Regions from separate parts of the Homo sapiens genome. Here region 1 is linked to region 2. A link means that fine-mapping ties the variant in region 2 to the expression of a gene that starts in the linked region. Tissue or cell type: whole blood. Region 2 holds a variant in brackets; the other region holds the start of a gene. All regions are shown on one strand. Distances are between the middles of the regions.

Region 1 (4,000 bases), 87 kb before region 2:
GGTTAAGAGATGCCCAAATGTTCTCTCTCAGATATTTGAGATGGTAAAACGTAGTACTTCTCACTTTCTGGGAACTGTAAAATAAATAGATTGATAGAGAAATCCTCAAGCTAATGAAGCCACTGCATATGAACTCTTTAAATTTTGTAGTTTCCATGGATGAGTATATTTTATGTGCATTACATACACCAGAGAAAACTGGCTGATGAAATTAGCAGTAACAAGTAAGGACTTGAGGATAAATAAGGAAACATAAGTCCTACTCCAAGGTATTTTAATCATCATATAATAATTAAGTACTTAAGCAATTCCTGGGGACCTCTCCCGGTGTATAATAAAAACAGGACCACATCATAACTTCTTCTCCCAAGAGAAAGGTCTCTTGTAACAACTGTATTCTACAGATAATTACTAAATATGATCTTGCCTAATCTCTTTCTTCTAGTATCATAAATAAATGTATCTCCAGTTAAATATCTGGTTTTAACTCATCAAATACTCCTCTATCAGTGTCCAATTCTAAACTGGTTGACTCACCTCTGTTTTAATGAAGTGCTGGCTTCTACATGTATTTTGATCTGCAACTGAGAGCTGTATGTGTTGTAAGTACTATGTGTCTGATGATGGGCTCGCGGTGTGTTTTTCTTTTGAGTCAGGTACTACAGCTAGGCTCATGCAGCCTCATACTGAGTAGGAGATAATTATACCACAAAGTGGTAGCATAAGACAGAGATGTGCATTGGAGGAAAGGGCACATAATGATTCTGAAATTCAGACCTGTGTTTGTAGAAAACGAGGTGAGCTCCGTGTTGATAATTTTGAACACATATTTTATTGTTGTAAGGATATGGGTCATTCATAATGCAAGGGGACCATCATTCCCAACTGGGAAGCTTCTAGTATCACCTAGTCCAAAAGGTCTTAAAGAGGCATTTTACCTATTTGAGGAAGGGTATCCATTATATTTTTAAAGTACATTCTCAAACCAACTGCTTTTAAAAGGGTCTTGCAGTTAAAATGACCACATAATATCCACTACGGGATAAGTGCAAGATTGGTGCAACATTGGGACAACAGACCCAGACAGGGTCTGTCCCAGGCAAATGAAAAAACATGGGCACCTATTTATGGAGGAAAAATGCCCAAGGGTTTCTAGGCGATGAGGGCTGGAGGGTTGATTTGGTAGACTCTTCAAGAAGAGGCTTCCTCTTGCCTTTTCAAGGGGGAAATAAAGATAAACTAGGGACAATGAATTTTAAGGACTTTTCAAGGGTGTGATATCTTTGCTGCTTTCATTTTGATTTTTAAAAATCCCATGTTTCCCTTTATAATTAACAAAATCCATGAATTAAAATGGGTCTTTGTGCTAATCTTTAGGGCAGCAAGAAATGAGGCTCTTGAGAAATAGTACCCCATTTTGCTATCACCTTAGATGTTGGAGAGGGAAAGAGAGGGCGAGAGAGCTGAAAGAAATCCTTCGCAAGAAAACAAAGTAAGTGGACAGAGTAGTTGGCGGGGAACATCTGGGATTATAAACACTGGGGGCAAAGACAAGACCTTGTGAAATGCCTGACATAGTATCTCACGAACCTGATGAATAAAACCATGATATCTGGGTGACCCTGGTGACAACGCTGGGAAAGGTGAGAGGAAACAGAGAGCGCTGTGTTTGAGAGTAATGTTATTGGTTCTTTAGGAACGAGACCGTGGGCTCTTAGTGACGCTGTGGGTTCCTGAGTTGTCTGGGAGTACAGGGACTGCAGCCTCGAGTCTGTCCAGCTACGATCACTTTGGAAGGCCTTCGGTGGGATGCGGGCAGAAAGCTCCCAGTGCAAAGGGCGTGCCACGAAAACCACCAGCCAGAAACCTGAGCTGGGACAGGTGCGCTCCGCCGCCGAAGCTTTCCCCGCGGCCCCTCCCACTCCCGTCCCAGGCCCGCCCACATCCCTGTCCGGGACTTAAGTCCGGCACCGCCGCCCTCTCCCCCGCCCCGCCGCGCTAGAGCCTGGGGTCTCGGCAACTTCCGGCGGCGGGAGCTGCAGAGCGCAAGGCGCGCCCACTGCGCGTGCGCTTCGGCCCGGCTCCTCCTGCGCCCCCGGCCCCTGCGACTGGGACTTGGTACGGCCGGGCGGTTGGCGTCCTCTGCGGCTCCTGCCAGGGGCGGGCTTTTCAAATCTTCCCTTTGAAGGAGTGGCGACGGCCCGGACAGTTCGCGTTGGAGATGGAGGGGCCGAGCCTGAGGGGTCCTGCGCTCCGCCTGGCGGGGCTTCCCACCCAGCAGGTGAGTTGCGGGAGGGACCCTGCCGCGGAAGGTGAGGGAGCCGGGGTTCTGTTCCTCGCGCATTTGCTTTGTGGAGGAGTCGGGAAAGCCTCTCCCCCGCTCCTCTATTTCAGCGGTGGCCAGAAACAAAGGGAGGGATTAGGAGACTGCGCTCTTGGGGCTCTAAAGGGCCTGGACATCGGAACCCCCGAGTTTCTCAGGCAGCTGAGGTCCGGATTGGGAAGGCGGTGCCGGGGTCCAGGCGCGCGTTTGCGGGCGCACCTGTCCGCTGCCCTCCCCAGGCTTTGGACGCCTGTCTTTTTGCAGGTGTAGGTGATGCCGGGGAAATGGGAGCCCCTCGATTCCCAAGAAACCCAGCGAGGCCAGTGGACAGCTGGCTTATTACGGATTTAATGGGAAGCACAGTAATGGAGCGATGTCTACACACAACACAGAACTGGTTGGGGGGAGGGGGTTCGGAGCGGAGTAGAGGCAAACAGCAACCTCTGCACTTTAGAAAAAGTTGAAGGTTTGATACTGGGTTCTTTCTCAAATCATTTGAAAGGAAAGAGGGAGTACACGTGACATTGGATAGAAGTTTGATGTTTGCTTTTGAGCCATGTAAAATGCGTTAGAAACCTTTTTATTTTACTTTTTACTAAACCAACATTATTTCTTGGCAGCATCAGTTATTAAAATGTTACCACTTTTCACTCTTAACCATAACTTTAGGGTCTTAAAAGAAAACTCTGATGTCTTTAAGCTGGACCTTCACTTCTATTTTAATCTCTACCTTCTTTTACCTACTTCAGAAATAGGTTAAGCCATATGAAATTGCCAGTTTTGTAGGTCAAAATTGGTAGAATATTTGCAATTTCATTCATATGGAGGCACCTGATATCTTTGTTTAAAAATCTGGGATTTCCTTAGCAGACACAAAATTATTAGTTTTCAATAATACTGTGAAAAATAAAGCAAGACATTAAGATTCATTATGCAAAAGAAGTCCAGTGTCTTTATCAGTAATACTTATGCTGTTTTATGCCAGCATTTTCAAAAATTTCAAAGATTTTGATGTACTTTTTTTCAGTCCTGTCCTGTTATGTACTTTGGCTGTCCTGATTGCTAACAAAATCTTGATTTATAGTGAATTGCCATTCTATTGATGTTCTTGCACCTATCATATAGGTGTAGGTGTAGCTGTCCAGGTGTATTTATTGAGCTGCAGGCTGCAAGAATAGGAATGGTACAGAAGCGACAAGAGGATAAAATCATGAAGTTTAGTTGCATGGAATGAAAATAAATGTTTAAATATACATAAAGCCTGGGTTATTTACATGTGGGAAGATACAATACTTAATTTCTTAGGCAGGACAAAATCAAAATGATTGAAATGTGGAATTACTTCCTCAGTTTGGATTTGAAGAAAAAACACAAAATAGTAGTAGGTTGCAACCTAACAGGAATATTGAGAGTCAGATAATTTTATACTTGACTAACACTGAATTTTTATTTGGTATTTCCTTTGATACATGAATGAAGCTGCCACGTAATCGAGATAAGGCCAAAGATTTTGAGGTGGTCACACACTGGTCAAACACCTCTGCTGAAACCCTGGAGTCCTCTGCGACTCCTCACAGCATAGAGTATTGGCTTTGGAGTCAGATTCAGGTCAAACCAAACTCTTCTTGTTGTGCAACCTTGAATAAGTTATCTCTGTTTTCTAAGTTTCAGTTTCCA
Region 2 (7,737 bases):
CGGGGTTTCACCAACTTGGCCAGGCTGGTCTCGAACTCCTGACCTCATGATCTGCCCACTTCGGCCACCCAAAGCACTGGGATTACAGGCCTGAGCCACCGTGCCCAGCCTGCCAAAAGCAATCTTTGAATCAAAGCTGGAAGAACTGATGCAATCAATATTCCTTAGTTTGGGACTGACTTGGTGCCTGAGTACCAGTCAACTTGGAGGATCTGCCATACAAATTATGAGGGTTTTTTTTTTTTTAACTGTGGAGGTCCTATTTTTGATAGATTATAGAAATAAGGAGTGACAAGTCAAGCTGTCATGAGAGGAGAGTCATCTAAAGTTAGTACTGAAAACAGAAATTTGGCTGGCAAATTAGTTAGAAAAGGGAGGCAGAACAATGGGAAAATTTTTTGCAAGATTTCCTGGGAGTTGGGGATGGTGATGATGGCAGGGGCCCTGGAGTGACCGCTTACCAATTAGTGGTTTACCTGTTAACTTTGGCAGATGTTTTACCAGTGAATGGTAAGATTTCTAATTGAGCTTCAGGCAAGACTGTCTAGTGAAAACTATACTTCTATTTACTCTTCAGTAACTAACAAGGCCTGTTTTTTTCTTTACTTAGTTCTTATTTGAGATCTTGGTTAAGAAATTATAAAATATAAATAGAATATTAGCGACTTGGGTTATTTGGTTGTTGAGAAAGGGTTCTCTAGAGAAAATATAATTTCATAACTGCAGTACTTATTCAATTAGACTAGGAAGGCTCCTCAGAGGTAATCTACTTCAACCTCTTTCTGTAGGCGGAAGCCATGCTCCCAACCAATCATATTCATGAATATCCAGCCTCTGTTTGACATTATTCTTTAAGGTTGTTTGCTTTTAGAATTTTCAGCCCATTTCTTGTAAGTTCCAGTTCTAAGAAAGGCTTTTTTACATATTAAGACAACTCATTTTTCCTGAAACTTGCAATCTTTTCCACTGACTGCCTTTTGTGATTCTGATTGGTGGTGACTTTCTGGTTTTCTCTTTACCTCTGTGGGTGACTAAAGGTGATTTTTTTTGTTTTTCAGAATAATAGTAATCAACTACATAATCTCCAGAAACTGCCAGCAACTTCCAAATTCCTCTTCACATAGCTTCTCAAATACTTCATTAGAACCAGTGTGAAAAATTTAAAATACAATGTGACATTTCTCTAGTAGAATGTAAGCTTCATGAGGGAAAAGACAACGCGTCTCCTTCCTGTATTCCTAGCACCCAGTACGGCACCTGACACATAATAGTGACCTTAGAAGAATATTTAAGAGTCATTGAGTAAACATTTTGTAGAGCTGTCCATGTTTATTTTCCATTCAGTGTTTACCAGGTGTCTGCTATTTGGACAGTCACTTCATTGTTCATTAGTACATGACTTTGGTAAATATATCTCCTGTGAAGAGAAATATTATAACTACTATGGCATTCAACACTGGTATTTCAGTTACTCAACTAATCCACCCACTGATGGAGTGAACCTTGAATTAAATGCTTTGAAGAATAAAGTGAATCTTGATAAAAATCAAAGGCTGAAGAAATCTTGTTTGACAGAAGGCATGAACAAAAATGCTAAAATTAATACTGTTTGTGGAGAAACACTCATTCCACCGCAGACTAAATGGAGTTCATGAGTATCAAAATGCCTATGTGATCAAAAGGCAGAAACAGCTTCTTTTTACTAGGTCTGTTAATATTCCAGGACTCATAATATTGTGCCTACATGAGCACCTGTGTTTGTGGTAACTCAAAGTATTTGAACACCTTATCTCATCCAACCTCAAATTTCCTGTGAGGTATTTAAGCACCGAGAGCTCTTGGTACTGTTTTCAAGATGAAGCAGATGAATTAGAGAGGCTGTTCACACACCAAATTTCACAGAAGCCTATGGAGGAAATGA[C/T]GGGGAGACTTACCAGTTAACACCCAGTTGCAGAAATCAATGTCAGAGCTTGAAAGGACCTTATAAACCCCTGATCCAATGTGGACTTTCCTAGTAAGACTTCTGTTTGCAGTGACTTGGTTCATTTCACCAACCACAAGAATTTTAAGTAATTTTTAATCATAAAAGTAACATAGAACATAGTAATACATATATACGTACATACATGATACAGAAAGGTATCAAAAAACAAAAACATATATTACTTCCTCCTCTAACATTCCAGTGCCAGTTTCCAAAGATTCCTATTACCCAGAGGTAACCACTGTTAATAATTTTTAATGTATATTTCCAAAAATTTTTTATGCATTTAGAAATGTGTGCATGTGGGTGATGGGTGCACCAAAATCTCAGAAATCACCACTAAAGAACTTACTCATGTAACCAAACACCATGTGGTCCCCCAAAAACCTATTGAAATAAATAAATAATAACATAATAAAGACTTAATAAAAAGTAAAATAAAAATGTGTACATGTATACATACACGCAATGACAGTTGGTCCTCAAATAACATCATTCCATTCAGTGTCATTTCATTATACTGTTGATTGGAAAAAAATTGATTTCTGCCCGGGGCCCCTGTCTGTGTGGAGTTCCCATGTTCTCCCCATGTCTGTGTGGGTTTTCTCTGGGTATTCTGGTTTCCTCCCACATCCCAAAGATGTGCATGTCAGGTGAATTGGTGTGTCTACATTGTCCCAGCCTGTGTGGGTGTGTGTGTGAGGTGCCCCCTGCTAGGGTATGGCGTCCTGGCCAGGGTGGCTTCCGCTTTGCACCCTGAGCTGCTGGGGTGGACTCTGGCCACCCTCAACCCTCATCTGGAATAATTGGGTAATAATTATCTTGTTTTTATTAATCTTTCTTAAAAGTATATATAGTTCGCATTTATTTCAGTGTTTAATATTAGAAGTGTTTTACTCTTTAGAAGTTTGGTGATGTTTTTGTGACCAGAAATATGCCATAGGAACTTAGCTCTTGTTTATATCAATTAGCCTGCAGTAATTTGGTTCCATTGTGTGTTTCCTTAAAGCTGAAGTTTCCAAGTACCTACTGATGACGTTAAGTGAGGACTTAACTTGTGTGTTGCAGCTCCTATTAAATTGCTGCACTTGGAAGCATAGTAGTCATTTCAAACTTTAAAAAGATCTTCTGCTATTCTGTTCCAATTCTGACCTTCTCACAGTTTTATTCATCTAGTAAACACCAACTCGATCCTTCCAGTTGCTCAGGTCAAAACCTTTAAGTCATCTTTGGTTCCTCTCTATCCAAAACACCATCTATCTAATTCACCAGCAAATCTTATTGAGTATATGTTAAAAATATCTCCAGAATCCAACCACTTATCACCATCTCCATTGCTTCCACCCTAACTCAAGCCACTAGCATCTGTTGCCTGAATTATTACAATAGCCTTCTAACTGGTCTCCCTACTACTACATAGCTTTCTACTGTCTATACTCAGGATAGCAGACAGAAGGATCCTGTGAAAACACAAGTCAGGTCGTATACCTTCCATGCGCAAAAAACATTCAAATGCTCCCCAGTTAATTCAGAGTAAAAGCTGAAGTAAAAGACTGTCCACAGTCTGCTGACCCCATTACCTATATGACTTAATCTCCTGCTACTCTAGAGAAACTTCACTCTCTTTGTTCCACATATACTGGCTTTTGCGCTGTCCTGAACATGCCTGGCATGCTCTTGCCTCAGGGCCTTGCACTTGCTGTTTCCTCTTCCTGGAATGCTCTTACACCAACTATCATCACTTCATTCAAGTCTTTTTTTTTTTTTTTTTTTTTTTTTTTGAGACGAAGTCTCACTCTTTCGCCCAGGCCAGACTGCTGTGGCGGTATCCCCACTCACTGCAAGCTCCGCCTCCCAGGTTCTCGCCATTCTTTTGCCTCAGCCTCCCAAGTAGCTGGGATTACAGGCGCCCACCACCGTGCCCGGCTGATTTTTTGTATTTTTAGTAGAGACGGGGTTTCACCGTGTTAGCCAGGATGGTCTCGATCTCCTGACCTCGTGATCCGCCCTCCTCAGCCTCCCAAAGTGCTGGGATTACAGGCGTGAGCCACCACGCCCGGCCTCAAGTCTTAATTTAAATGTAACTTTCTCAATCAGTCCTTCTCTAGCCCCTCTTAAAATTGCAACTCCATCCCCAAACTCACTCTGTATTCCCTTTCCTGCTTTTGTTTTCTCCTTAAAATTCATTTTTACTCATTTGTCTTTTTAGTTGTCTGTCTCTCTAAGGTAGATTATGTTTCTAAAGATGACTACAACATTAACTTTCATCCCACATGTTGTTTTCTAATGTGACATTGTCATTCTCCATCAAGAAATGGAGCCTATTTTGCCCTCACTTGAATCTGGGCTTCTGCCTTCCATCCTTGGGGTGCCTCCTCTTGGAAGTTCACAGCCATATTAGAAGAACAAATGCCCTGAGACCACCATGCTGTAAGGGGGCCCAAACTAGCCAGGTGAAGAAGAGGCCATGTACCAAAGCTCTGGACATGTGACTAAAGCCTTCTGGAACCGTCTGTGCCAACATCACCCATCAGCTGAAGGGAGTCAAGGAAGAGATCCAGTCAATACTAGATGGAACAGAAGAACTGCCAAGCTGAGCCCTGAATTCCTGACTCATAGAATTGTGATGAAATAAAGGTTGTTGTTTGAGGACACTATGTTTTGGAATAGTTCGTTAAGCAGCAATAGATTCTTGAAATATTCCTATACTATAATGCAAGCTCCACGAGGATAAAGATTTTTTATCGTTTTTGTTTTATTTTTTTGCCTGCTGCATCCCTGGTGCCTGCTGTAGTGCTCAGAACGAGGTAGGTGCTTGGTAAACATCTGTTGAATGAATGAATATATGAATGAAAGAGAGAGAGAACATAATGAAGAGAACATTACTAGTGGATCCATGTTTCTTTCCAGTGCCATGAAAAAATAGGATATGGAACCTAACTATGGCAGTAATAAGAGAAATTAGTGGCCATGGGCATGCTGCCTTGCAGGGCCAGCTTCCCAGGCTGGCCAGGATGCAGAGAACATTTGGCAATATATCTCAGGAAAACCAGTTTCACAGACATTGTCTTCAAACCTTTTCTTTTTGAGACATTAAATCAACCTTTTAATAAGCCAAATCATTGTCCTTTTAAGTATAAAGTAACACAGGCGCATGGTAAAATTTTATACAACACAGAAAGTTGTAGAAGGAAAAGAGTTTCATTTTACCCTGATGTTAACAGTTCCTTTGGTAGTAGTTAGAAAATGTCTAGGCATGATTGAGGCCTTAAGATTCATTCTATTTTGTTCTCTCTTTTTTCACTCTACATAGTATCTTAAAGAGAGTTTCCTAAAGGCATCTACAACAACAATTAGCTTTTACTTATTGAATGCTTACTATAGCTACTCTTGTTAGTCTGTGTAGTGTTACTATACACTACACAGGCCAGGCATGGTGGCTCACGCCTGTAATCCCAGCACTTTGGGGAGGCTGAGACAGGTGGATCACCTGAGGTCACAGGTTCAAGACCAACCTAGCCAACATGGAAAACCCCGTCTCTACTAAAAATACAAAAATTAGCCAGGTGTGCTGGCATATGCCTGTAATCCCAGCTACTCAGGAGGCTGAGGCAAAAGAATCTCTTGAATCCAGGAGGGGGAGGTTGCAGTGAGCAGAGATGGCACCACTGTATTCCAGCCTGGGCGACACAGTGAGACTCTGTCTCAAAAAATAAAACAAAACAAAAATAAAAAAATAAATACCTGAGGCTGGGTAATTTCTAAATAAAAGGGCTTTATTTGGTTTACAATTCTGCAGACTGTACAAGAAGCATGGTGCCAGCATCTGCATCTGGTGAGGGCCTCGGACTGCTTCCACTCATGGCAGAAGTTGAAGGGGAGACAGTGTGAGCAGAGATCACATAGCAAGAGCAGAAGCAAGGGACTGGGGGAGGTGCAAGGTGGGAAGGGCTGGGCACAGTGGCTCAAGCCTGTAATCCCAGCACTTTGGGAGGCTGAGGCGGGTGGATCACAAGATAAGGAGATTGAGACCATCATGGCCAACATGGTGAAACCCCGTCTCTACTAAAAATACAAAAATTAGTAGGGCGTGGTGGCATGCACCTGTAATCCCAGCTACTCGGGAGGCTGAGGCAGGAGAACTGCTTGAACCCGGGAGGTGGAGGTAGCAGTGAGTGGAGATAGTGCCACTGCACTCCAGCCTGGGCGACACAGCAAGACTCCATCTCAAAAAAAAAACAAAAAACAAAAAAACAAACAAACAAACAAAAAAAAAACCATCTCTGGCAGGAACTAATAAAGCCAGAACTCACTCACACACCCCTGGGGTGAGGACATTAATCTATTCATGAGGGACCCACCCCCATGACCCAAACACCTCCCATTAAGCCCGCCTCCAACATTGGGGATCAAATTTCAACATAAGATTTGGAGGAACAAATATCCAAAATATAGCAGCCACCATACAATAGACGATTTCATCTTCACAACAACCCAGTGAAGTCGATATCATCATTATTCCCATTTTATAGATGAGGAAACTGATACTTGAGGGGCAACGTAACTTGCCCAAAGTCAAACACTTTGAAAATGACAGATTCAAATTCTGACTCCACAGCTATGCTCTTAACTTTCTTTCTCTACTGCCTCTGTTACAGAAAGTGAACTCCTTATCTCTAAGTGCTGCATTGTTGTATTCCATAGCAATGACTGGACTAGCAACTCTGAAACAATCTTTTGTGCAATCTAGACTTGATAAATGAGTATATATATTGAGAATAGTGGAAGCCAGGTTTCTTACTGTTGGTAATGGAACTTGCATGTATGGAAAGGGGAAGACTAGAACATACACTGTAGTGTTGGGTTACAGTTGGAAGTATCACTATGGGCTAATTTTTTTTTTTACATATCTATCCTAGCTCTGTCCATCGAGAAGGCCTAGAAATAATGACATACCAGTAGCCATAAACATACTGAGCCCCCAGATCTTGGTTCTAAATACTATTCTCCAGTAAAAGGAACCAGAGATCCTTGACTGATTCTGGTTCTGGGATAGGGACAGCACATGATGAGCCTGGAATATCTTGTTGCTCCAAAAAATACCCTCAATAACCAAAGCTGGAAACACTTGAGCAACAAAATAAAGTATTATTGGATGATAACACAGAATGTAAAAAACTATTTTTTATCCATACTGATATAAATTGTTGAATAGGTAAATAATAGGAAAGAAGAATTCAAAATATGCAGATTCTCTACTATCAAGGAGGTGAAGCATAACTTCACTTCTTAAGCCAGTGCTTCACTTGGTGACTTCCTTTCAAAGAGTACAGTATGAAAAGGTAGGAAAAAAACCCAGTAGCTTCAGAATAGAAGAAGCTGACAAACACCATGTCAGGCTGGTGGGAGCTTTCAGTTGGCTCCTCTGTTCCTTTGACATGCCTCCATCAATGTGTTTTTATTTGAGCACTTCTTTTCTTTTTGGTAAAACAAAATACTCCAGGCTCCTCCTGTATATTTCCTCCCCCAATCCTAGAACCAGCCATTTCTCCAAAGAGCCCTAGTTTATTTTATTTCAAGAATGGTATTAGAAACCAAGATCTTGTAGTTTAGTGTGCTCATTTTTACTGGGATTTCATTGCTTCTAGCCTCTGCAGACAGAAGAAAATATATGTGTATATATGAATGTATATATTCATATCTATAAATACTTCTATCTATATTAAGCTAAACATGAGTTTAAACTGATGTCT

Evidence for each region. PIP is the estimated chance that this variant, and not a neighbour inherited with it, causes the effect.
Region 1: it holds the start of RTKN2, and the variant in region 2 is fine-mapped to the expression of RTKN2 in whole blood (INTERVAL, PIP 0.97).

What each region holds. Positions count from the first base shown.
Region 1 is chr10:62,266,832-62,270,831 of GRCh38, reverse strand. RTKN2 (rhotekin 2) reads left to right here and starts at 1,988. Exons shown (of 12, transcript NM_145307.4): 1 at 1,988-2,281. The coding sequence starts at 2,222. All of the region lies in intron 1 of LINC02621 (long intergenic non-protein coding RNA 2621), which reads right to left. RefSeq lists a silencer at 1,907-2,236.
Region 2 is chr10:62,177,709-62,185,445 of GRCh38, reverse strand. It overlaps a transcript of RTKN2 not described here. Among named protein-coding and RNA genes, the nearest start is that of LINC02621, 78 kb to the left of the region's middle. RefSeq lists an enhancer at 4,792-4,961. The variant C/T (reference allele first, on the strand shown) is at 1,922.